Regions from separate parts of the Homo sapiens genome. Here all the other regions are linked to region 1. The links come from fine-mapping of genetic effects on gene expression. A gene starts in region 1. Each other region holds a variant in brackets. All regions are shown on one strand. Distances are between the middles of the regions.

Evidence for each region. PIP is the estimated chance that this variant, and not a neighbour inherited with it, causes the effect.
Region 2: its variant is the best candidate, but not a certain one, in a credible set for the expression of CEBPA in whole blood (TOPMed, PIP 0.67).
Region 3: its variant is the best candidate, but not a certain one, in a credible set for the expression of CEBPA in whole blood (INTERVAL, PIP 0.57).
Region 4: its variant is the best candidate, but not a certain one, in a credible set for the expression of CEBPA in whole blood (TOPMed, PIP 0.85).
Region 5: its variant is the best candidate, but not a certain one, in a credible set for the expression of CEBPA in whole blood (TOPMed, PIP 0.68).

What each region holds. Positions count from the first base shown.
Region 1 is chr19:33,299,395-33,304,495 of GRCh38, reverse strand. It overlaps CEBPA (CCAAT enhancer binding protein alpha), which reads left to right and starts at 1,962. Exons shown (of 1, transcript NM_004364.5): 1 at 1,962-4,562. The coding sequence starts at 2,082. The coding sequence ends at 3,158. It overlaps CEBPA-DT (CEBPA divergent transcript), which reads right to left and starts at 1,675. Exons shown (of 1, transcript NR_026887.2): 1 at 1-1,675. RefSeq lists silencers at 1,222-1,481, 1,562-2,131.
Region 2 is chr19:33,274,516-33,279,616 of GRCh38, reverse strand. No RefSeq gene overlaps it. Among named protein-coding and RNA genes, the nearest start is that of CEBPA, 25 kb to the left of the region's middle. RefSeq lists enhancers at 519-1,076, 3,376-3,520, 4,807-5,101 and a cis regulatory region at 3,441-3,454. The variant C/A (reference allele first, on the strand shown) is at 2,312.
Region 3 is chr19:32,966,571-32,971,671 of GRCh38, reverse strand. All of the region lies in intron 1 of CEP89 (centrosomal protein 89), which reads left to right. Among named protein-coding and RNA genes, the nearest start is that of CEP89, 2.8 kb to the left of the region's middle. The variant G/A (reference allele first, on the strand shown) is at 2,382.
Region 4 is chr19:33,260,060-33,265,160 of GRCh38, reverse strand. No RefSeq gene overlaps it. Among named protein-coding and RNA genes, the nearest start is that of SLC7A10, 37 kb to the right of the region's middle. The variant G/A (reference allele first, on the strand shown) is at 3,147.
Region 5 is chr19:33,351,768-33,356,868 of GRCh38, reverse strand. No RefSeq gene overlaps it. Among named protein-coding and RNA genes, the nearest start is that of CEBPG, 19 kb to the left of the region's middle. The variant G/A (reference allele first, on the strand shown) is at 2,085.

The DNA of each region.
Region 1 (5,101 bases):
GCAGAGTTCCCGATCTCTGGGCAGGCAACAGCAGCTGTGCAAAAAAGGCCAGACATCGCCTTCCTCCCACAACTCCACAGGCCGGGAACCGTGCATGTACAGTGGCGTTTCTTTGTTCCTAGGTAGGAAAAGCCATTAGTTTTAGCACCGCAGAAAAAAACGCAAATCGCTCTTGGTGCTTTTTGATTTCCGTCCAGGTCTCCCTCCACAGGTGAATGCTATATGAATGGGTCCTGCATTTGGCTCAGCAAGCAGCTCTCCGGCTCACATCGGGATATTTATTTAACGTATCTGGTTTTTACTCCCTCCCGTCCAAAAGCGTCAAGCTAAAAATATCTTGTTTATGAGCTCTGGACCGAAAACGAAGCAGTTGGGCTATTAATCACTGGGACTATGTTGAATAGGAACTTGATTAAAGCGCAGTGTGCGTTGCCCAGATGAAACTGCTTCTTTACTGCGATCGTCGTGGAAGCTCGGGGCTCTCCAGCGGTGTTTTTAGCTGTGCCCCCTCCGGGGCTCCTGGGCGGGTCGTGGCGCCTTGCCAGGCCTAAGGCCACTGTCGGTGAAGGGGGTCTTCCCTCACCTGTAGGCAAGCGCGCCTCTAGCCGGGACGCAGGCGGCGTCAGGCCTCAGCGCCAGTGGCGAGGGGCGGCGCGGGCAAGGACAGGAGACACTTGAGGGCTCCCAAGACTCCATCTGGGCCCAGCTGACGGTCCGTAGCCGCCACCCCGGCCCCGGTAAAGAATGCGAGGGACGCACGTGGCTGGGGGTCTCGGTGGCAAGCTCCTTCCCCCGCCGCGGTGAGAGCATTAGCTGCCGCACTCAAGGGGCCCCAGGGCCTGGCCGCCTCGGTCCCTAGGATCCCGGGGACTACAGCGCCCGGCGAACCACTGGGCAGAGTTCTCCCTGTGCGTGCTCGGACCTGGCAGCCCGGCGGCCTGGACACCCTCGCTCCCGCCGTTGGCGCCCACCTGAATGGGGAGGCGGGGGAGGAAGCGGTGGCTTCGGGCCTCGAGGGCTGCGGCCCCCGCCTCGGAATCCCGGCCCCAGAGTTAAGTTTGTCTCCTCCCTCGGTGCGCCCCTCCCCGTGCTCGCCCCGGCGTCCAGCTCCGCTAGTCTGGGGGGCCCCGCGGTCCCGCAGGAAAAAAAATCGGCGACTCCACGCCGGGTAACAGCGCCGGCCCCGCGCGCCTAGCAAGCCGCGCGCTCCGACCTGGAGAAGTAATTATAAAGAAAGTTTTCCAGCCCGGGCGGATCGACCGGCCAGGTCCTCCAGGCTCCCGGGCCGAGGCCGCCTCCGCTCCCCGCGGGGTCCTAGCGCCCTGCGCGGCGCCGCCCATGGGACCCCGGCGTCCTCCGAGAGGTACCTCTGCGCGGAATCACAGGGGTAGCCTGGAGATCAGAGCTAGGAGACGCAGAGCCACCGCGCTCAGGACCTCTCCGCGCGTCCCAAACGGCCCCCCACCGGCCCCAGCCCCGCTGCTCTGCGCTGCAGCCTCCCCGGGACGCGGGTCCGGGACAGGCCTGGTTCTGGCTTTGAAAGAGAATCCGCGCCCCAGCAGCTCAAGACCAAGACTCGCCCTCCGCCCCCCACCCCTACCCCGTGCAGCCTCGGGATACTCCTGGGCTCCCGGCCGTGGCTGGATACGGGCGCCTAGGGCAGGCAGGAGGAGGGGGCCCCCGCTACCGACCACGTGGGCGCGGGGGCGACGGCCGGGCCGGGGGCGGAGCTTGGAGCGAGCGCCGCGGCTCTGCTGGGCGCGCTGGAGGCGGTGGGCGTTGCGCCGCGGCCTGCCTGGGGAGCGCGGCGCTGTGCCGCGCTGGTTCGCCGCCCCATGCCGGCCGCGCGCTAGGACCCAGCAGGCGCCGCGCCGCCGCAGCCCGGGGACAGAGGCCGCCTCGGACTCTAGGGGGCGACGCGGCCTGCCGGGTATAAAAGCTGGGCCGGCGCGGGCCGGGCCATTCGCGACCCGGAGGTGCGCGGGCGCGGGCGAGCAGGGTCTCCGGGTGGGCGGCGGCGACGCCCCGCGCAGGCTGGAGGCCGCCGAGGCTCGCCATGCCGGGAGAACTCTAACTCCCCCATGGAGTCGGCCGACTTCTACGAGGCGGAGCCGCGGCCCCCGATGAGCAGCCACCTGCAGAGCCCCCCGCACGCGCCCAGCAGCGCCGCCTTCGGCTTTCCCCGGGGCGCGGGCCCCGCGCAGCCTCCCGCCCCACCTGCCGCCCCGGAGCCGCTGGGCGGCATCTGCGAGCACGAGACGTCCATCGACATCAGCGCCTACATCGACCCGGCCGCCTTCAACGACGAGTTCCTGGCCGACCTGTTCCAGCACAGCCGGCAGCAGGAGAAGGCCAAGGCGGCCGTGGGCCCCACGGGCGGCGGCGGCGGCGGCGACTTTGACTACCCGGGCGCGCCCGCGGGCCCCGGCGGCGCCGTCATGCCCGGGGGAGCGCACGGGCCCCCGCCCGGCTACGGCTGCGCGGCCGCCGGCTACCTGGACGGCAGGCTGGAGCCCCTGTACGAGCGCGTCGGGGCGCCGGCGCTGCGGCCGCTGGTGATCAAGCAGGAGCCCCGCGAGGAGGATGAAGCCAAGCAGCTGGCGCTGGCCGGCCTCTTCCCTTACCAGCCGCCGCCGCCGCCGCCGCCCTCGCACCCGCACCCGCACCCGCCGCCCGCGCACCTGGCCGCCCCGCACCTGCAGTTCCAGATCGCGCACTGCGGCCAGACCACCATGCACCTGCAGCCCGGTCACCCCACGCCGCCGCCCACGCCCGTGCCCAGCCCGCACCCCGCGCCCGCGCTCGGTGCCGCCGGCCTGCCGGGCCCTGGCAGCGCGCTCAAGGGGCTGGGCGCCGCGCACCCCGACCTCCGCGCGAGTGGCGGCAGCGGCGCGGGCAAGGCCAAGAAGTCGGTGGACAAGAACAGCAACGAGTACCGGGTGCGGCGCGAGCGCAACAACATCGCGGTGCGCAAGAGCCGCGACAAGGCCAAGCAGCGCAACGTGGAGACGCAGCAGAAGGTGCTGGAGCTGACCAGTGACAATGACCGCCTGCGCAAGCGGGTGGAACAGCTGAGCCGCGAACTGGACACGCTGCGGGGCATCTTCCGCCAGCTGCCAGAGAGCTCCTTGGTCAAGGCCATGGGCAACTGCGCGTGAGGCGCGCGGCTGTGGGACCGCCCTGGGCCAGCCTCCGGCGGGGACCCAGGGAGTGGTTTGGGGTCGCCGGATCTCGAGGCTTGCCCGAGCCGTGCGAGCCAGGACTAGGAGATTCCGGTGCCTCCTGAAAGCCTGGCCTGCTCCGCGTGTCCCCTCCCTTCCTCTGCGCCGGACTTGGTGCGTCTAAGATGAGGGGGCCAGGCGGTGGCTTCTCCCTGCGAGGAGGGGAGAATTCTTGGGGCTGAGCTGGGAGCCCGGCAACTCTAGTATTTAGGATAACCTTGTGCCTTGGAAATGCAAACTCACCGCTCCAATGCCTACTGAGTAGGGGGAGCAAATCGTGCCTTGTCATTTTATTTGGAGGTTTCCTGCCTCCTTCCCGAGGCTACAGCAGACCCCCATGAGAGAAGGAGGGGAGCAGGCCCGTGGCAGGAGGAGGGCTCAGGGAGCTGAGATCCCGACAAGCCCGCCAGCCCCAGCCGCTCCTCCACGCCTGTCCTTAGAAAGGGGTGGAAACATAGGGACTTGGGGCTTGGAACCTAAGGTTGTTCCCCTAGTTCTACATGAAGGTGGAGGGTCTCTAGTTCCACGCCTCTCCCACCTCCCTCCGCACACACCCCACCCCAGCCTGCTATAGGCTGGGCTTCCCCTTGGGGCGGAACTCACTGCGATGGGGGTCACCAGGTGACCAGTGGGAGCCCCCACCCCGAGTCACACCAGAAAGCTAGGTCGTGGGTCAGCTCTGAGGATGTATACCCCTGGTGGGAGAGGGAGACCTAGAGATCTGGCTGTGGGGCGGGCATGGGGGGTGAAGGGCCACTGGGACCCTCAGCCTTGTTTGTACTGTATGCCTTCAGCATTGCCTAGGAACACGAAGCACGATCAGTCCATCCCAGAGGGACCGGAGTTATGACAAGCTTTCCAAATATTTTGCTTTATCAGCCGATATCAACACTTGTATCTGGCCTCTGTGCCCCAGCAGTGCCTTGTGCAATGTGAATGTGCGCGTCTCTGCTAAACCACCATTTTATTTGGTTTTTGTTTTGTTTTGGTTTTGCTCGGATACTTGCCAAAATGAGACTCTCCGTCGGCAGCTGGGGGAAGGGTCTGAGACTCCCTTTCCTTTTGGTTTTGGGATTACTTTTGATCCTGGGGGACCAATGAGGTGAGGGGGGTTCTCCTTTGCCCTCAGCTTTCCCCAGCCCCTCCGGCCTGGGCTGCCCACAAGGCTTGTCCCCCAGAGGCCCTGGCTCCTGGTCGGGAAGGGAGGTGGCCTCCCGCCAACGCATCACTGGGGCTGGGAGCAGGGAAGGACGGCTTGGTTCTCTTCTTTTGGGGAGAACGTAGAGTCTCACTCTAGATGTTTTATGTATTATATCTATAATATAAACATATCAAAGTCAATGTCGGTGTCTTTTTAAAACCAGAAAGAAGCTACTTCCAAGGTTGTCTGTGGGCCAGGTCACATTTGTAAATAATACAGCATTTTCCCTGGCGGCAATCCTGACTTTCATGAGCTCTCCATCCATCCTGAGCCCCTCTTACCCTAAGGGGGTGACTTACTTCCCCCAGGCAAGACAAATAAATAGCAGAGGACAAGGCTCCAAATGGAGTATGTCCAGAGCCTGAAGGCAGTCTCTTGGGGTCAGGGGAGGGGGCTGAAGGGGTTACTGGGCTGAGGCCTTGGCGAGGCTTCTTATCTGCCCCGGGGAGGAGGAGAGGGAGTCCTCTGCCTGAGGGGTAGGCCTGGCTAAGCAGCCCTAGGCTCAAGGAGCCCTTTGTGCAGACTTCCTTGCAAATCACCTACAGCTGCAGCCCTGGCCACTCACACACACCGCAGCTCCAGATTCCAGCAGGACCCTCGGCCAGCAGGAAGAGGCCTCCAGTGGTAGGACCCTCCAACCCTCTCCTCTTTCCCTAGACCATGTGGCTACACCCTACCC
Region 2 (5,101 bases), 25 kb after region 1:
CTCTGACCTGGACAGCAGCAGTGAATGCTCTGAGAGCATGGGAAGTGCCGGACGTGATGCCCCACACCTGTAATCCCAGCACTTTGGGAGGTCAAGGCAGGTGGATCACCAGGAATTCGAGAATCAACAGGAATTCGAGACCAGCCTGGCCAACATGGGGAACCCCCATCTCTACTAAAAATACAAAAAATTAGCTGGGTGTGGTGGCACACGCCTGTAATCCTAGCTACTTGGGAGGCTGAGGCTGGAGAATTGCTTGAACCCAGGAGGTGGAAGTTGCAGCGAGCCGAGGTCGTGCCACTGCACTCCAGCCTGGGTGACAAAGTGAGACTCTGTCTCAAAAAAAAAAAAGAGAGTGTGGGAAGTGCTGGCCCCCAGAAAGTGACTGCCTAGGCAAGGAGGGGCTGCTCCCCACCCCCAGAGACGCCCCGTGCCTGCTCCCACCCAGCATGCTCCAGAGCTGGGAAACTGCTCCTGCTTCTCAGTCCCCTGCCAGGGCAGGTTATTCCCTGGGGCCTCACACTGTGAGGGGAATGACAGGGTACAGGGTCGTCCTTCCCCCGACATGGCCGGCTGGACCTCAGCTCTGCTAGAGGCCCTTCCACATCCTGCCTCCTGCCCTGGGCTGGGGGTCAGTTTTCCCAACCTGGAGGTGAGTGGGAGTCCGAAGCTGCCCCAGGGAGTGGGTGGGGGGGGCTTGCCCTGGTCTCCAGGGATTTCAGAGGACAGAGTTGACCTGGCTGGTGTGGCTCTGTGGCCAGGGCAAGGGTTCTGCCTGGGGCCAGGACATGTGTCCTGGCTGTGTGGCCTCCCCAGGGCCCAACTCTCTGGCCAGACTCCTGTGGGGAGGAGCAGGGGCTGCAGGGGGTGGGGGAGGTGAGGCCATCAGTTCCCCCAACCCCGAGGTGCCGCAGCTCCAGGGCAAAGGGCAAGTCGGCTCTGGCCAGAGTAAGGAAGCAGGGCAGGGGACAGACAGCAGAAAGAGGAAGGCCTGGCCCAGCAGCCAAGGGGCTTAAGCCCTGAGGCCTGAACCTTGCCCCTCTCCTGGGATGCCCCCCTAGAGAGACAGAAACTGGGACCAACAGAGACAGGAGGAAGCAGAGAAAGAGTCAGAGTCATCCCAGCACTTTAGAAGGCTGAGGCAGGAGGATCCCTTGAGGCCAGGGGTTGGAGGTCAGCCTGGGCAACATAGCAAGACCCCATCTCTACAAAAAAAAGAAAAAAAGAAAGAAAAAAAGAAAAGAAAAGAAAAAGGAATGTGATGTGGCCTGAAAGTCCAAAAGCAAGGCACGGAGAGGAAGAGGAGCAGGAGGGGAAGACAGAGCTTTGGGGGAAGGGCTTTTAGCCAGCAGCAGGGAGCCAGGGTTATCTCCAGACACCTGATCCAGCTATTCCTGCTGCTGGCTGAGAGCCCTTCCCCAGGCTAGAGCCCAAGGGGCCTGGCAAGAGCCAAGCTGTGGGGTGGGGCCTTCCCAGGAGGGCCAAGGGGTTCCTCTGTCGCCATTGTTCCCTGTCCACAGAAAGCTTCTCCTTTTCCATCCGCAGAGCTCACACAAGATAGCTGTGCCTGCGTGTGCCCATATGCATCTGTGTGCGTGTCTGCGTGTGCATGTGGTATGTGCAATATGCCTGAAGCCATCTGCATCTAGGACCCTGGACTACCCAGTGTCATAAAGGCAGCCTGGGCTCCAGAACAAAGCCTCTCCCCCAGTATAGCCCCATGAGGCCAGCACTCCTTGGAGAACTGGGGAGGCCCAAATGAGGCGGATTCTCTGCTCCTGCAGAAGGCCCTGGTGATCCTTCTATCCCACAGTGGAGCAGAAGAGGCAGTCCCTTCTCCTCGGGTTGCCCCCACCCAGGTGGCCCTTGAGCTCCCAGGAACCACACAGTCCCAGGGTGGAGGAGGGCCCGACTGACCAGAGACCCCTCCCCGACTCACTGAGCTTCAGGCCTCTGCAGTGGGGAGGGACTGAAAGTGCTCCCCGAGTGGGCCACAGCATGTTTCTTGCATGCAAAGCTCAGCGTGCATGTGAACACACGCACACGTGCAAACAGGAGCATTCACCTCTGTCCCTGGCCAATCAGCTTCAGCCTGCCCACCTCAGCCGCCATTCGCCCATCATCCACAATGGCCGGCTGAGGGTTCTGGACGTGGGGATGATGGGCAAATGGCGGGTGAAGTGACAGGGAGAGAGCTTGGGTCGGCACCCTGGGCCCACATTCTCCCACCCCCTGCCACCCTTGCTCACTGCGGCCAGCCGGGTTCCCTCCCCAGCCCTGTTTGTCACGCACATTTTCTCCACAGATGTTT[C/A]GCGGTGCGTGTGTAACGGTGACAACTGTGCATTTGTAGCCTCTGTGCCTGCATGGTGTGAGTCCAGTGTGTGAATGTGTGAATCAGGGAAGAGACCCAACTCTCACTGGTTTGAGCAGAAAAGGAATCCACTGGTTCTTGCCATGGAAAAGTCCACAAGGTGCCGGTTCGGGCACAGCTGGGGCTCCGTCGTCAAAACCCGTGTCGGGTCCTCAGCTCTCCTTTCCTTTGTGCCCAGCAAGATAACCATGGGGCTCACATTCTCCTGCTTTGCTAGGGAAGAAAAAATGATTTTTTTTTCTCAGTATTTCCAGCAAAAGTCTCAGGGCAGACACCCATTGGCCAGGCCCAGGTCATATGACCCACTTCCAGAGCCCCAGGCAGGGGCTGCCCTGCCTGAAGCCCCTGGTCTGAGAGCTTGAGGGCTGGTCCTCCAAGGGAACACAAGGGGCTGCCCCAGAAGAAGGAAGTGAGTGTGGGCAGCCAGGAACTTGGAGGTCCACCCCAGTGACTCTTCGGGAAGGGGTCCTCTGGGGCGGGGTGGGGACATATGTTTTTCCTATCCTCAGTCTCACTCCAAACCAGACTGGCATCTAGAATTCTGGGATTAGAAAGCCCTGGGATTCCTGCTCTATTTTTTATTGTGCAGATGGGGAAACTGAGGCCCAGAGAGACAGGGCATGGTCTAGGGGTCACACAGCCAGTGAGACCAGAGCTGGAGCTAGAACACAGGTCTTCTGACAGCCGGTCCTGACTGTCTACACAGCATGCTCCACGCGGCCAGTCTCAACAAGCCCCAGCAGTGTGGACGCAAGGGGCTGAGGTCAGGGCTTGAGACACCCCAGTGGGCAAGCCCCAGTCCAAGAAGAAAAGCCCACCTCAAAGGCTCCAAAGAGAATGGGCTGGGGCCAGGGGCAGGAATCAGCGGTAGGCTGATCCAGGGTGGGGGTGAGAAAGGCCAGCGCCTCTAGACCGCCTGCCACTGCTCCACCTCAGCAGCAAAGGTGGGTGAGGGAGGCCAGGACCAGGAGGGCAGGAGAGGTCAGGGGGTGGAGAGGCCATGAGGGGCCCGGCAGGCTCCAGCAGGCCTGTTTACTCAGAGGCCCACGAGGTCAAGGCCCAGGCCCCAAGTTAATCATTAATGGCGGCCCGGCCAGCCCTGCTCGTGGCCGCTCAGCGTGGTGGGGGCCAGCACCCAAAGCCCAGGCACTGCCCCCTGCTGCCACCCTGATCAGGGGGACCCAGGCATGCTTCGGAGGACACCGCGTTCTCTGCAGTCCCAGGGACTCTGACATCGTCTTTCCCCACTCAGGGCAGGCCTATGCCAGGATCCCGGGGTCCCCAAGGCAAGAAAGGGGGTCTAAAGCTCTCCAAGCCAGCTCCATGTTTGCCTCCCACAGCCCGGTTTCTGGGTGTCACACCCAGCAGGGAGGGGACAGGGCAGAAGCAGCAGTGGGGACAGGGACCTTGTGCAGGAGAAGAGTCCCAGTGGGTGCAAGGGGTCAGGGGTGCCCACATCACTGGCAGGGGACAGGTTTGGTGGCAGCACGCAGGGCTGGGGTGGTGTCTACAGTGGGACAGGCACCTAGGCCTGAGTCCAGGGGTCTGGGCTAGAGGTTCTCGGGGGCCCCCTTGGGGTTCCTGCTTGGGCTGACCCAGCTCAAGGATAGCTGAGCTCCATGCCACCCAGCTGTGTCTCCATCATCCCTAGAACCAGCTGAGACCAGCGGCTCCCAACGCCCCAGGGACAGTGTCTTTCCTCTACGATAAGCGGGCACTGACAGAGGAGCAGCACCCGCATTAGCAGCTTTTAGGATGCAAATCCCTGTTTTGTCCTGGGGATTAGGCCTGAACCTCCAGCTGGAGAAGGCAGCCCCTGTGGGGCAGGGGGACAAGGACATGGTGGCTGTGCTGGCTGCCCACCCCACTCAGCCTCCCTGCCTGACCCAAGACCCAGGGCCACCCCGGGAGGAATCCAGGTGGTGGGGACAGGGAAGGTCCGGCATTTGCACAGTAAGTGGCTGCTGTCCTTGGGCCCTGGGCTCACTCAGCGTCTCTCAGGGACAGTGGCGCCTCTGGGGGACCTTGGTACAGCCCAGATGTGGACGCGGCAGATGGGTGCCGACTAAGATGCTGCATCTCTCAGGCGTACCCAGTGAGGCCAGCCCTCCCAGCCCCTGAGAGAAGCAGCGCTTCTAGAAGGCTCCTCCCAACATGGCAGAGAGCTCTTGGAGCTTGAATAGACTCTTAGCCTCAAAGAGCTTCATTTTTATTTGTTAAGGCTTTGGGGGATGGGGCGGTGCAGGGGTAAAGCTGCCCACTGTGGAAGGGAACCTGGGACAGCTAGTGCCTGGGGACATTGGGGGCCCCCATTTCTCTTGGGGTACCTCTTGTGGGGGTGCTGTCCCTGCCTCCACAGCAGTCAGAGGAGTGTCCAGCTCCAGAGCCCCCACCCCGGGCAGCCCAGATCAGGAAGCATTTAGAAAAAGCCTGAGGGCACATCCTATGGGCCACCCTAGGGGCAAAGCTTTCTGGGACCCCCACTGTAAACCCAGGCAAGGAAGGCACAAGGTCTCTCGGCCTTGGGCACCCTAGAGCACTGCACTGTGTGGACCCTCAGCGTCCACTTTAGCACGAGATTGTTCCCTTTTCAAGGCACCACTTCTGCCTGACCAGGAAATCCTGAACCAAGGCTGCCTATCCCTCCCTGAGTCAACACTTGCCGAGGAGGGAGGTGGAGCAGGAAAACAGGCTCCAGGAGTGCAGGCCAGAGAGGGCTGTGTCCACACA
Region 3 (5,101 bases), 330 kb after region 1:
TTTTTTTTTTTTTAAGAAACAGGGTCTCGCTCTGTCGCCCAGGCTAGAGTGCAGTGGTGCGATCATAGCTCACTGCATCCTCGAACTCCTGGGCTCAAGCGATCTTCCCACCCCAGCCTCCCGAGGAGCTGAGACTACAGGCGCGCGCCACTACTCCCGGCTAATTGTTCAATATTTTTGTGGAAACAGGGATCTTGCTATGTTCCTATGGTGGTCTTGAGCTCCTTAGCCTCCTAAAGTGTTGGTATCACAGGCGTGAGCCACTGTGCCCGGCGTTAACAATCTTCTGCCCCAGGGTCGGCCACAGTTGGACAGGAGCACCCTGCCTCCCCTGTAGCATTCGTCCCCGTGCCCGGAGTTAACTCCTGGACGACGTACACCTGCTGCACTGCTGGATATAGCCATTCTTCATTTTTCCCTCCTCCACCCACCATGTACACCCCATCAGCAAGTCCCATCCGATATACCCACTACATACATCTGCCAGCTGTTCCCATCTCCACCCACACCCCGGCCTCCAGCATCTGTCTGGACTGCTGCGGCAGATCCTCACTGGTTTCTCTGCTTCCACTCTCGCCCTTCCCCTAGGTCCATTCTCCACGTAGCAGCCAAGGGGATTCTTATATTTATTTATTATTTAATTTAGTTTTAGAGACAGGGTCTTGTCCTGATGCCCAGGCTGGAGTACAGTGGCATGATCATAGCTCACTGTGGCTTCAACCTCTTGGGTTCAAGTGATCCTCCTGCCTCAGGCTCCTGAGTAGCTGGGACTACAGGTGTGCACCACCACACCTAGGTATTTTTTATTTATTTTATTTTTTGCCTCACACTCTGCCAAGTCTCAATGCCTGGCTAATTTTAAAAATTATTTTGTAGAGGCCACGTGAGGTGGCTCTCACCTGTAATCCAGCACTTTGGGAGGCTGAGGCAGGCGGATCATTTGAGGTCAGGAGTTCAAGATTAGCCTGGCCAACATGGTGAAAACCCATCTCTACTAAAAATACAAAAATTAGCGGGCGTGGTGGTGGGCACCTGTAATCCCAGCTACACGGGAGGTTGAGGTGGGATAATCGCTTAAACCCGAGAGGCAGAGGTTGCAGTGAGCCAAGATTGTGCCACTGCACTCCAGCCTGGGCGACAAAGCTAGACTCTGCCTCAAAAAAACATAATTTTTTTTTTTTGGTAGAGATGGGGTCTGGGTATGCTGCCCAGGCTGGTCTTAAACCTTGGCTCAAGCAATCCTCTCACCTTGGCCTCCAGAGTGTTGGGATTACAGGTGTGAGCCACTGCATCTGGCTTGAGTTTTTATTTAAAGCCCCAAACATTAATGAGTCCCTGCTGTGTGCTGATACCCACAACTGACAGCTTATGGCCACACGGTCTGTAGGATAGACAAGCCCATAAATAATTCTGTACACAATGGTAAAACAAGAACTGCTGTTGATGTGTGTACCAGAAGGGCAGTGACGTCAGCCTGGAGAGTTGGCCTGGGCCTGGCAGGGAGTAAGGAAAGAATTCTGGGTGCAGAAGACAGCAAATACCAAGGCCTAAAAAAGAATGAATTATTTGCTGTTTGGGAAATGGAAGCCCACGCTGAGTGCTGAAGCACAGGGACTCTGCGCAGGAAGAGGAGGGGAAGCAAGAAATGAATTTGGGTCCTTGTGATGGCAGTGGCTGCTGCCATCACGCTGTGTGGCTAGGGCTGCACACTTCATGGAGCCGGTGGAAGCCCCGTCCCTCATGAGTTGGGACTGGAGCCGCAAACCGCTGCTGCAGACCCAGGCCTTCTGCTCTATGGAGCAGGCAGGAGCCCCACCCTCTTGGGCAGGGCTACAGCCACCCAAACTGCAGCTGTGGATCCGAGCCTCTCTGCTCCTGGGGGAGCCGGGAACAGGCAGAATTTGCCCTTCCAGATGCAGCTGCAGCCGCGCAGGCAGGAGCCAGGGACAAGTGGGAGCCCTGCCTCTTCCAAGTTGGCGGGGTGGGAGCTCCCAGGTGCAGCTGTGGCTGCCCCCCCAGGCACAGGACGAGGGCATCTCTGTAGCCTGCACCATCGGCCATCCCAGGAAGGACAGCCCCCTTCACCCTCCATCCCTGCAGGCTCAGGGGTGTCTGCTTCCACTGCCTGGCCTCTCTCCACTCCAGCAACTGCTCTGATCTTGGAGGGGAGTCGGAGCCAAGACCTGCAGCCATGAATGGCAGCAGGAGGAAGGGGGTGGGGTCCCCAGTAAGGCCCCACCCTCAGGCCAGGGAGGGCCTGAATTCTGGGGGCTGGGCTGCCAGTCCCTCTGACCAGAGTGGAAACTCGTGGAGCCTTTTCTGGGCCTGCCAATGGCCCAATCAGCACACACTTCTTCCCCGCTGAGGTCCATAAAAACCCT[G/A]GGCTCAGCCAGAGCAGCGCAGAGAATAGCCAGAGGATGAAGATGGTAGAGACGAGGGGACAGGATGACCAGCTGCAGAGAGCAGTACCCTCTCTGCTGATAGCTGGAGACGGTGGGGTGACCAGCTACAGAGAGGAGTACCTTCTCCGCTGAAAGCTACAGAGACCACCTGCCAGCAGAGAGGAGCTACACTCTGCTGCGAGCTTCAGAGACCTGCAGAGACATTGGAATGACTTGCCTGCGGAGAGGAGCCACTCTCTCCAGGGCCTCCTCTCTGTTGAGAGCTGAATGGTTGAGCTCATGGGACAATCTGTCTCCAGAGAGGAGCTACCCACTCCTCTGAGCTCTTCTAACACTAAATAAAACTCCTCTTCACCCTTCACTTGTCTGTGTACCTCATTCTTCCTGGATGCAGGACAAGAACTCAGGCAAAGGCACTGTGGCCACAGAGGTTCCGGCCAGAAAAATCGACACCCCAAAAATCCCATAACACTTGGTAGGAACCAACCTATATCAGCCTGATAAGCCATGCTGGACATTTGCCTGCCGTTGAGAGAGTGGTGCTGCCCATGAGGGTTTTTATGCCCAGTAGAGACAGGATTGATGAGGGGACCATAGTTAGGAATGATTGTGATGGTATGAGGGGGGATTCACTCTTTAAAAAAAAAAAATCTTATGCAGCCTTTTTGGAGGACCTGCTGGACGCCAGCCCTTGGGATTCAAAGGTTAAGAAAACCTTTTCTGGCCAGGTGCAGTGGTTCACACATGTAATCCCAGTATTTTGGGAGGCCAAGGCAGGCGGATTGCCTGAGGTCAGGAGTTTGAGACCACCCTGGCCAACATGGTAAAACCCCATCTCTACCAAAATACAAAAATTAGCTAGGCATGTTGGCACATGACTGTGGTCCTAGCTACTTGGGAGGCTGAGGCATGAGAATAGCTTGAACCCAGGAGGTGGAGGTTGCAGTGAGCCAAGATCGTGCCACCGCACTCCAGCCTGGGTGACAGACAAGACTGTCTCCAAAACAAGCAAACAAACAAAAACCATTTCTTGTCGTGTAGCAGGTGGTGGAGGGGGGCAGGGTGGAAACATGGAAACTGTGGAATCACTTGACAAATACAGGGTGGCAGGTGCCACACAGAGGTAAACAGAGTGGGGGTATTGGGTAGAGACTGCTTGGAGCTTCTGCTCCTGTGGGTGGCTGTGCAAGTCGGTGGTGGGGGCTGTAGGAGATGACTGGAAGGTGTGCCCATCCCTCACTCCTGAAAGATGCCCCCACTCTGTGCCACCCTTCCCAGCCTTGTGTCTCGTGCTGACCACTACCTAACATTCCTGGGGCCACTGTCAGTGGGTGCTCCTCACTAGGCCTTGGGATTTCCTCCATCTGCTCTGGAAGCCCTTCCCATGGGAATTGTCCCCACCATGCCCCCAAGCCCCACCCTCGAAGATGCCTCTAGTCTAGCAAAACGGAGAATCGTGCTTATGATTTCCGAGCACTGCAACCAATGTCTTGCTCCATTCCTTTGTTCATGCCGTTCCCTCTTCCTAGAATGCTGTTCCGTCACATTTCCAAATGTGGGACCAGTGGGCATCTCTGAAAGCCCAGTCTAAACGCCTGTGTGATTTTCTCGAAGGAAAGCATTTGAAATTCCCAGGCTGGCCCCAGACCTGGAGGAATCTTCCCTCCCTGCCCACCCCAGCACTTTGTGCTAATTACTGGCTTCAAATAGAAAACAATAGTGTTTTTATCCCACATCTCATTGATGCTCTTTTTTTTTTTTTTCATTTTTAGTGAGAGCCTTTCTCCCGGCTCATTCCATAATTCTATGTTCTGTAATAATTATTTGGGTGTTTTTCCTCCCTTCTCACCACTTTGGGGATGAAGACAAGGTTTCTTCATTGCTGTCATGGTGTTTTGCCTCTAGTAGGTGTGAATGAATGGCTCGTGCCAAGAAAATGATTGGACTAGACCCAGAAACGTCTCAGAGACTCCCAGTTACAGTTACCTAAAGCGGAGCTCTCTGACTTTCATTGTGTATAGGAGCTAGTTTTCATTACTCTCGTCTTGGAGATAAGCCACCTAAAAGCTTATATTAAGCCCCTATGAGGTGTGAGGCAATGTGCTCAATGCTAGAGTTCCAGGATTGATAAAGATAAGAGAGTGGGCCAGGTGCAGCACTCGCACCTATAATCCCAACACTTTGGGAAGCTGAGGTGGGAGGATCACTTGAAGCTAGAAGTTCGAGACCAGTCTGGGCAATGTAGTGAGATCCTGTCTCTACAAAAAAATACAAAAATTACCTAGGCATGGTGGTGAACATCTGTAGTCCCGTCTACTCGTGTGGCTGAAGCGGGAGTTTGAGGCTGCGGTGAGCTATGATCGTACCACTGCACTCCACTCTGGGCAACAGAGCAAGACCCCATCTCAAAAACAAAACAAAGCGAAAAACAATAAGGATATCACTTGCTTCTCAGGAAGTCGCCCTGCTCTGCAGGGGGAGCCACATGAGACATCACTGGGGGGAGTGCTGTGGGACACATGGAAGAGCTAGAGGGTGACTCTTGGGGACAGCCAGGGAAGCTCTGAGGAGGGAAGGACAAGAGGGCCACACAATGAGCAGCTATCATGATGCTCCTTGGCTGTGTGCACTTGTCTGGCCTGATGGGGACTGGGGATGGCAGGGGAGGAGTGGGCTTCTGATGGGTTTGGATCCATGGG
Region 4 (5,101 bases), 39 kb after region 1:
ATTTAGCATAAAAGCCACTTGTAAGTAGTCACGTGGCAAGACCACGGCTGGGGCCCAGAGAATCCTGCTGGGGGCCCATAACATGGGATTGGCCCCCTGGAGCTAAGGCCAGGGCTGCAGTGCAGGAGGCCCACACCCGCAGGGGATCCTGCCCGAGGGGCAGGGCTGGATGAGAGGCAGTGAGCCCAGAGCATAGACAGAAGACAGTGGGCGTGTGTGTGTCTTGGTCACTGCGTGCGTCTCTAGGTAACTTTGGTTTGCACGTTTGTGAGGTTGAGCGTCTGTCAATGTGAGTTTCCGTGCATGGCTGGTGACTGCATTTGTGTGTCTGTGCATGGGCCTGGGTACATCCGTGTCTCTCGGTGTGTTTATGGATCTGTTCATTCAATCACTGCCTGGTGCGGCCAGGCCCTAGACAGACTGGAGGGCTCGGTCCCTGCCCCATCAGGCCCACAGTCTGGCAGGAGGTGAGCAGGAAGTAGGAATTACACCCATAATCCCTAGGCAGGATGGTGACAGGGGGAGCTCACGCCTCGAGGGTGGAAGCCCCGAGACAAGGGACCTGCTGCAGCTTGGCACTCGGGGACCCTGGATGCTTTCATGAAGGACAGGAAAGCCGAGTGCCATAGGAGGCATGGGAGTTGTCATGGGGAGGAGAGTTTTCCAGGCAGAGGGGAGAGCATTTGCAAAAGCCGGGGCACTGAGGAGGGGTCGAGGCAGAACTGCAGGTGCTAGGAAGCCAAGGGGTGTGGGAGGTGAGGGCAGGAAGGACAGGAGCTAGACACGCAAGCCTGGAGGCCACCATGATAATGGTGGCTGCTTCCTAGAACCGTGGGAAGGTGAAGTTCGGAAAGCAGCCCGATCATGTGGTCATTTAATAATACGACCATTCTGGGCCGGGCACGGTGGCTCACGCCTGTAATCCCAGCACTTTGGGAGGCCAAGGCGGGCAGATCACGAGGTCAGGAGATCGAGACCATCCCGGCTAACACAGTGAAACCCCATCTCCACTAAAAATACAAAAAATTAGCCGGGGGTGGTGGCGGGCACCTGTAGTCCCAGCTACTCGGGAGGCTGAGGCAGGAGAATGGCGTGAACCTGGGAGGCGGAGCTTGCAGTGAGCTGACACTGCACCACTGCACTCCAGCCTGGGCGACAGAGCAAGACTCCATCTCAAAAAAATAAAATAAAATAAAATAATAATAATAATATGGCCACTCTGTTGGCTAAGAGCCTGGATGAGGCCAGAGCTGCCATCCCATGAAGAGAGATGGTGGCTGGGGACGTGGGGCGGCAGGGGAAGACGTGGACAGGTGCGGGCATGCAGAGGCAATGGAAGGGTGACAGGCAAGGCCTGGCGACGGCTCAGGTGTCAAGGGCCAGGAGGTGTACATGCTGTGTGTGCACACGTGTGCACGTGAGCCTGTACAAACGCCTGCCAGGAGCTCAGGCCAGGCCCTCTCTCCTCTCCCTCTCCCCTCTCCAATCTCTTGCCCGTGTCCCCCACAGCCTCGCCGCGGACATGACAGTGACGGTAAGAAGGACTCAGTGTTGCAACTGCATTTCCTCTCGAACCCAGGGCCGCCAGAGATTAGCTGAGAGCCCCGTGTGCACTGGGCGATAACACCCCCACCACTCCCCCCGCTTCCTAATCTCTGATTCATTTCCAACTGATAACAGCATGAGGGCCCATGGGCGACGAAGAAACACCCCAGTGGGTCCTACCAAGGCCACTGTCAAGCCACGTGCAGGGACTCCGGGGAGCAGAGACAGGGAGGGCGAAGACCAGGGGTGATTGCAGAGGCAGAGACAGAGAGAGGAAGAAAGAGAATGAGAAGAGAGAGAGAAAATGAAAATGGGGAGAGAATGAGAGAGGGGGAGAAAGAGAGGGAGGGGAGGGCAGCGGGAATGGTCGACGGGTGCAAAAATATGGTTAGGTAGAATGACTAAGATCCAGGATTGATGCATGCAGGCCTTAATACCCAGGTGATGGGTTGATCTGTGCAGCAAACCACCATGGCACGCGTTGACCTATGTAACAAATCTGCACGTCCTGCACATGTATCCCAGAACTTAAAATAATTTTTTTAAAAAAAAGATTCAGTATTTAATAGCACAACAGGGTGATGACAGTCACCAAGAATTTACTGTACATTTAAAAATAATTAAAAGAGCATGATGAGAATGTTTGTAACACAGAGAAAAGATAAATGCTTGAGGGACGGAGACCCCATTAACCCTGATGGATCATGACACATTGCATGCCTGTATTAAAGTATGTCATGTACCCCGTAGATATATGCACCTGCTATGGACCCATACAAATAAAATAAAAAGAAAGAGGAAAGGAAAGAGAATGAAAATGAGAGACAGACAGAGAGAGAGTGAGGATAAGGGGGAGATGGAGACAGGCGGAGAGAGACAGAGAGACACAAACCCCCCAGGTCAGGGCAGGGTGACGAGGAAGAGAGAGGAAACAAGGACAGTGGTGGAGGGACAGACTGACAAATGTGTGCAGATACAGAGAGGGGCTGGGGGGTCCTGGGGGCTAGAAGGACTTACTAAAGTGATAGAGAAACAGAAAAACAGGCCAGGCACAGTGGCTCATGCCTGTAATCCCAGCACTTTGGGAGGCTGAGGCAGGCAGATTACTTGAGGTCAGGAGTTCAAGACCAGCCTGGTCAACATGGCAAAACCCCATCTCTACTAAAAATACAAAATTAGCCAGGCGTGGTGGCGCACACCTGTAATCCCAGCTACTCGGGAGGCTGAGGCAGGAGAATCGCTTGAGCCCAAGAGGTGGAGGTTGCAGTGAGCCAAGATCGTGCCACTGCACTCCAGCCTGGGCAACAGAGTGAGATTTTGTCTCAAAATAAGAAACAGAAAAACAGAGAGAAGGGACTGAGTGAGAGCAAGAAAGGGAAGAGGTGACCCAAGGTCAGGAGACAGAGGGAGTGAAAAGGAGAGAGCAAGACGGTGAGTGGTGGGGTGCGAGGCTGGATGGGCCCTCCCTGGCCCTGCCCATACTGCCTAGACACCATGGGTTAGGGCAGGACAATGATTTTACTGGCTCGACCCCTGCCAGGTACAGGCCTCAGCTGGGGCAGGGTGGCAGGGACAGCACACACCCCTGACCAGTCCAGAGA[G/A]CCCCAACCCTCAGGTGGGGCAGGCAGGGCTGTGGGCTGCACAGAGCTGAGCGGGGCGGATGGAGCCATGCTCCTTGTCCATGGACTCGGCCAGAGCCAAGGAGACAGAGCAACCCATCGGGTCTATGTGGATCCTGACGGGGTCTGGCAGGGCTGGACAGTCAAGGTTCGGGGGTCTGGGCTCAACCCCAGGGCTGTGATGGCGTGGCAGCCATCTGTGCTTTCCCAGAGCAGGCAGGAAGTGCCTGCAGGGAGCTGGAACCGCAGTGCTGGTGCTCAGGGCTGGGACAGGAGGGAGCCGGTTTCCCTCCACTCCCCTCCCCAACCGAGCACTCCCCTGGGTTCACAGTCTGGGTCATGTGGTGATGCTGAGAGTTTAGTGGAAGAGGAAATGGGAGCTCCAGGAACTACAGAGGCCCGGCCACCTCCCTTGCTCCTAAGCCCCTGCACCAGATCCCCCCTAAGTATAGAAGAGGGGTACAGACAGCTGCCCACCAGAGGGGCGCCAGGGCCTGGGAAGGATCTCACAGGCTCCTGGGCTCAGGCCTTCCTTTGGGGATGAAGAGGGTTCCCAGAGCAGCCAAGCCAGGGGCTCCGGGCTTAGCAGAGGGGAAGGGGCAGGGGGTGCCCCCTCCACCGACCCCAGTGCTCAGAGCTGGTGGGAGAAGGGGGCCCTATGCAGAGGGAACTTGACGAGCAGGTGCCAGAGAAGCAGAGGCTGAGGAGCAAATCACGAAGCCCAGGGGGACTTCACTCTGAGTGCAGAGAGGAGCCCAGGGGCACTCCCAAGCAGGGGAGCTTCAGTGCTGTTGGTGTTCTAGTATGTTCCTCCATCCCCCCCAGGCCTTCAGCCCAATGCATGAAGGCTGGCAGCACATGGGGCCCAGCCAGGGACCCCAGCTCCTTGCCCCTCCAAGCTAGGGCAGTCACCCCTCTGATTTGCCGTGCCCGCCCTGATGCCCTGCCTGCCGCGACCACAGGAAGCACTGCCCCAGCTCAGCACTTCCCTTTTCTGAAATCTGCCCCCAGCAGCCCGGTGGCCAGGGAAGACAGACTTCCCGCTGCCCCCCCGGGCTCTTCCCACCGGTCACAAGTGGTTTGTTCCTGAGCTTCCCTGGGCAGAGGTGACCTTCTTGCCTCAACCACAGATCAGTTATTTATCAGAACAGGAAAGATGGCACCAGAGATATGTCCTCACCGCCCCCAGGAGGGCCTGGCCTGCTCCAACGACCACACGCCCGTTCCCCACATCATACGGGGCCTGCTCACCACATCACACAGGCGTGCGTGTGGCTGGCGCGTGTGTGCAGGGCTGCACCAGGGAGGGGCCGGGTGGGAGGCCTCGTGGGCAGATCGGGTGGGATGTGGGATGCACCCTGGCTCGTGGGCTCAGATGAGGCTCCCTGTGCCAGCCGGGAGCAGTCAGGATATCTGGCGTCCTCCAGATCTGATGAAAGACATCCTTCCTCCAGTCCCAGCCTCAGCTCCAAGCTTCCCCACAGGGAATACCCTGGGATAGGGCCTTAGCCAGCTTCTCTATCCCTCTACCCAGAGCGGACAGAGGGCTCACCCCCTCGGGATTCAGGACTCACTGTGGGTGTTTGGGGTTGGATACTTCTGTGTTGTTAGGGCCATTCCGTGCATTATAAGATATTTAGCTGCATCTCTGGCCTATATCCACTAGACACCAGGAACAATTTTCCCATCACCACCACCAATTGCAATGATCAAAAATGTCTCCAGGGCACGGTGGTTCATGCTTGTAATCTTAGCACTTTGGGAGGCAGAGACGGGAGGATCTCTTGAGCCCAGGAGTTCGAGACCAGCCTGGGCAACATAGCAAGACCCCTCTCTCTTCAAAAAATATAAGTATTAGCCAGGTATGGCGGGGCACACCTGGAGTTCCAGCTACTCAAGAGGCTGAGGCAGGAGGATCGCTTAAGCCCAGGAGGTTC
Region 5 (5,101 bases), 52 kb before region 1:
TGAGCTTCTATACATCAAGTCTACCACTCTGCATTTGTCTCCTTAATTATAAATTAAGTGGCCATATATGTGTGGATTTATTTCTAGACTCTCTGTTTTGTTACAATGGTCTGTCTACACTAGTGCTAATATCACAGTCTTTTATGATAGCATAATAATATGCTATGGTAAACATAATAATAAGGTTTGACATCTGGTAGTATAAATCCTCCAAATTCATTTTTCAAAATAAAAAGGGAAAAAATTTGTGATAATGTGTTTTCTCAAATGCAATGGGTAGAAACTCAGATATTTGTTATGCCATTAATATTTAACTCCTATTTTATGAATGTTAATTTATACCTGCTCAATATTTAATAATACCATAATAGAAAACTATACACCTACTAACATCAACAAAATTTTTTAAATGCAAGTTAGGAACCTGAAGAAAAAAATGTACAAAACACATTTTTAGTGGGATACCTTAATATACCTCTCATTCTTTGACAGGCCAGGGAGAAAAATACTTAAAAATACATGAAATTGAGGGAGCCCAGATGGTGAAATAGCATAAAAACCTTCAAAGCAGCTACTATAAACATCCTTAAAGAACTAAAGGAAACCATGCTTAAAGAACTAAAAGAAAGGATGATAACAACATATCATCAAACAGAGAACATCAAGAAAAAGACAAAATTATTTAAACAGAAACCCATAGAAATTCTAGAATTGAAAAGCAAAATTTAAAAAAATTAAAACTTCACTAGAGAGATTCAACAGCAGGTTTGAGCTGGCCGGAGCAAATCAGTGAAATTGAGGCTAGATCAATATAGATTATCCAATCATAAGTACAGGGAATTAAAAAAATGAAGAGCAGAAAGAAAAATTATCAAAGCCTCAGGAAGATGTGAGATGCCATTATATGCACCAAAATACACACAGAAGAATTAGCAGGTAAAGAGGAAAGGCAGAAGCATCAATGTACTCAAAGAAACAAAGGTTGAAACTTCTCATATTTGATGAAAAACATTAATCTACACAGCCAAGAAGCTCAACAAATTCCAAGTATGCCAAACAAAGAGATCCACATCCAGATATATTACGGTAAAGATGCTGCAAGACAAAGAAAAATCTTAGAAGCAACAGGAGCAAACAACATGTCACATGTAAAGAGTTCCCAGTAAGATTAACAGCAGTCTTTTCATCAGAAACAATGGAAGCCAGAGGCAGTGGGTTGATACAGTCAAAGTGCTGAAAATAAAATTTCATCTAGCAAGCATCTTATATCCAGCAAAATTCTCTCTTAAAAACGAAGGCAAGATAAAGATATTCCCAGATAAACAAAACCTGAATTTGTTGATAGCACACCTGCTTGACAAGAAGTGTTCAGGCAGAAAGCAAGTGACTCCAGACAGTAATGTGAACATGCACACACACACAACATACACAAACACACAATACACACATACAAAGAACATTGGTAAAGGAAATTATGTAGAAATTACAAAAGACAGTATATAATTGTATATTTCTTCTCTCTTTTTTTTGAGACAGGGTCTAACCCTGTCACCTAAGCAGAAGTGTGGTGGTGCAAACACGGCTCACTGCAGTCTCAACCTCCTGGGCTCAAGCAATCCTCCCACCTCACCCTTCCAAATAGCTGGGACCACAGATGCGCACCACCACACCTGGCTAATTTTTTAAAAAAATTTTGTAGAGGCCGGGTGTGGTGGCTCACACCTGTAATCCCAGCACTCTGGGAGGCCGAGGTGGGTGGATCAAGAGATCCAGACCATCCTGGTTAATACGGTGAAACCAGTCTCTTCTAAAAATACAAAAAATGAGCCAGGCGTGGTGGCAGGCGCCTATAGTCCCAGCTACTTGGGAGGCTGAGGCAGGAGAATGGCATGAACCTGAGAGGCGGAGCTTGCAGTGAGCCAAGATCACGCCACTGCACTCCAGCCTGGGTGACAGAGCGAGACTCCATCTCAAAAAAAAAAAAATTTGTAGAGATGGGGTCTCACCATGTTGCCCAGGCTGGTCTCGAATTCTTGACCTCAAGTGAACCTCTTGCCTTAGCCTCCCAAAGTGCAGGGATTACC[G/A]GTTTGAGCCACCATGTCTGACCTTCTTCTCCTTTCTTATTTTAACTGATTTATAAAGTAATTTCATAGAACAATGTGTATATAATTGTGTTGTTGGGGCTATAATCTACTGAAATACAGTGTACTTGACACTGATGCTACATGGAAGGTGAGAGCAAAGCTATACTGGGAAAAGGAAAGGACATGAGATGGTAGCTGAAACTATAGCAATAAACAAAGACAACCGGAATGGGTAAATTAAAAGGTAGTGGCCGGGCATGGTGGCTCACACTGTAATCCCATTACTTTGGGAGGCCGAGGCGGGTGGATCACCTGAGGTCAGGTGTTCGAGATCAGCCTGGCCAACAAGGTGAAACCCCACCTTTACTAAAAACACAAAAATTAGCCAGGCGAGATGGTGGGTGCCTGTAATCCCAGCTACTTGGGAGGCTGAGGCATGAGAATCTCTTGAATCCAGGAGGCAGAGGTTGCAGTGAGCCGAGATCCCACCACTGCACTGCAGCCTGGGCGTCAAGAGCAAAACTCCATCTCAATAAATAAATAAATAAATAAATAAATAAATAAATAAATAAAATTTTAAAACTCTATAGATATACTTTTGAGACAGGGTCTTGCTCTGTCACCAGACAGGAGTGCAGTGGTACAATCACAGCTCAGTGCAGCCTTGACCTCCTGGGCTCAAGCGATCCTCCAACCTCAGTCTCCCAAGTAGCTGGGACTATAGACGTACGTGCCACCACACCTGGCTAATTTTCATATTTTTCGTAGAGACAGGGTTTCACTATGTTGCCCAGGCTGATCTCCAACTCCTGGACTCAAGCCATCCACTCTCCTTGGCCTCCCAAAGTGCTGGGATTACAGGCATGTGCCACCGTGCCCAACTGTGTAGATATACTTTTTCTCCTTTCTTCTCTCAGTTTCTTTAAAAGACTTCAGACTACCTAATGCATTAATGATACCAAAGAATTGTTGGGTTTTTAACATATAGAAACATAATATGTATAATAATATGTATAACATATTAGCATAAACAATAATAATGCAGGAATGCTATTAAAAATGCATAAATACTATTATACTATAATGCATAATAATAGCATTAGAAGGGAGTATAATGGAGCTATTCAGGATTCTATATTTCACTGGAACTAAGTCGTTATAAATCTGCAAAGACTTTGGTAAGTTAGGCTAAATTACAATACAGTGATTGCTACATGACTCTGTGAATGCACCAAAAAACATTGAACTGCATACCTTAAATCATTGAATTGTATATAAATTATATCTTCATAAGTCTGTTTTTTAAAATAGACAAGGAAGATCTGAATAACAACATACAACATGATTTAATAGAGAAAATACATTAATGCTGTATAGGTCAAATAATATACATTCTTTTTAAGTATCGATAGAACATTCACACACAAAAGAATTTTACCTTAAGCAATAAAGAAAAGTTAATATATTCCAAAAAAGTAGGACTTTCATTGTCCAAAATGCAATAAAAAGGATCTTTTAAATAATCAAATAACTTGCCAATCAAAAGAGAAATCATCTTTTAAAAATCTTTTGGAGGTCGGACACAGTGGCTTACGTCTGTAACCCCAGAACTTTGGGAGGCTGAGGCAGGCGGATCATCTGAGGTCAGGAGCTCGAGACCAGCCTGGCCAACATGGTGAAACCCCGTCTCTACTAAAAATACAAAAATTAGCCCAGCGTGGTGGCATGTGCCTGTAATCTCAGCTACTCAGCAGGCTGAGGCAGGATAATCTGGGAGGCAGAGGTTGCAGTGAGCTGAGACCATGCCATTGCACTCCAGCCTGGGCAATAAAAGCAAAACTCCGTCTAAAAAAGAAAATTATTTGGAGTATAATAAATCTTTCAGATATAATATGGCAATTTCAATTATGTTTAGAAAAGAATGATGAGGGCCGGGCACAGTGGCTCATACCTATAATCCCAGAACTTTGGGAGGCCAAGGTGAGTGGACGGCTTGAGCCCAGGAGGTGAAGATCAGCCTGGGCAACATAGCAAGACCCCATCTCTATAAAAAAATAAAAAATAAAAAAGACAAAAGAATGATGTGAACAGGCCGGGTGTGGTGGCTCACGCCTGTAATCCCAACACTTTGGGAGGCCGAGGCAGGCAGATCACGAGGTCAAAAGATTGAGACCATCCTGGCTAACACGGTGAAACCCTGTCTATACTAAAAATACAAAAAAATTAGCCGGGTGTGGTGGCGGGCACCTGTAGTCCCAGCTACTCGGGAGGCTGAGGCAGGAGAATGGCGTGAACCCGGGAGGCGGAGCTTGCAGTGAGCTGAGACTGCGCCTCTGCACTCCAGCCTGGGCGACGGAGCGAGACTCCGTCTCAAAAAAAAAAAAAAAAAAGAGTGATGTGAACAGTATATATTACAATTTGAGGTTATAGTCAAAGCTTTATTTGTACCTGACCCAATAGGGGAGCCATTTTGCCTACCATGTGACCATTCTGAGGGCTCAGTCTCTTCCTAGCAATGGAGTGGGATGCAAGACACATAAGATAGGTCTACCATAAGTGAAATTGCAGAAGAAGCCAGATTATACACAGCCTGTGAAAGCCATATTGATTGCTTGTATCAGGAGCAAAGCCATTGACAGGTGAATGAGACAAGATTCAGACAGGTTAACAACTGTAGAAGAGAAATCGGTGGATACAGGATACTGACATGAAAGAGAATGAGTTTAATAGCAGAGGATTCGGATGCTCTTCGGAAAATTAATAAAGTGGCTGTCTTTGTGATTACACTGTGACAGTCCAACGGGAAATCCATAGAATATCATCACATGCCTTCATCACGTGCCTTCATCAGAGCTTTCCCCCATCAACACTTGACTCATTCGTCACTGATTTTTAAGAACAATGCATAATTGCAGCTATAACCTAGTTTTCTGAAATATAAAATAAAACTGACTTTTTGTAATGCTTGTTTAATTCTCAAGGCAAAGCTCCAATCATATCTTCTTTCACTGTATATG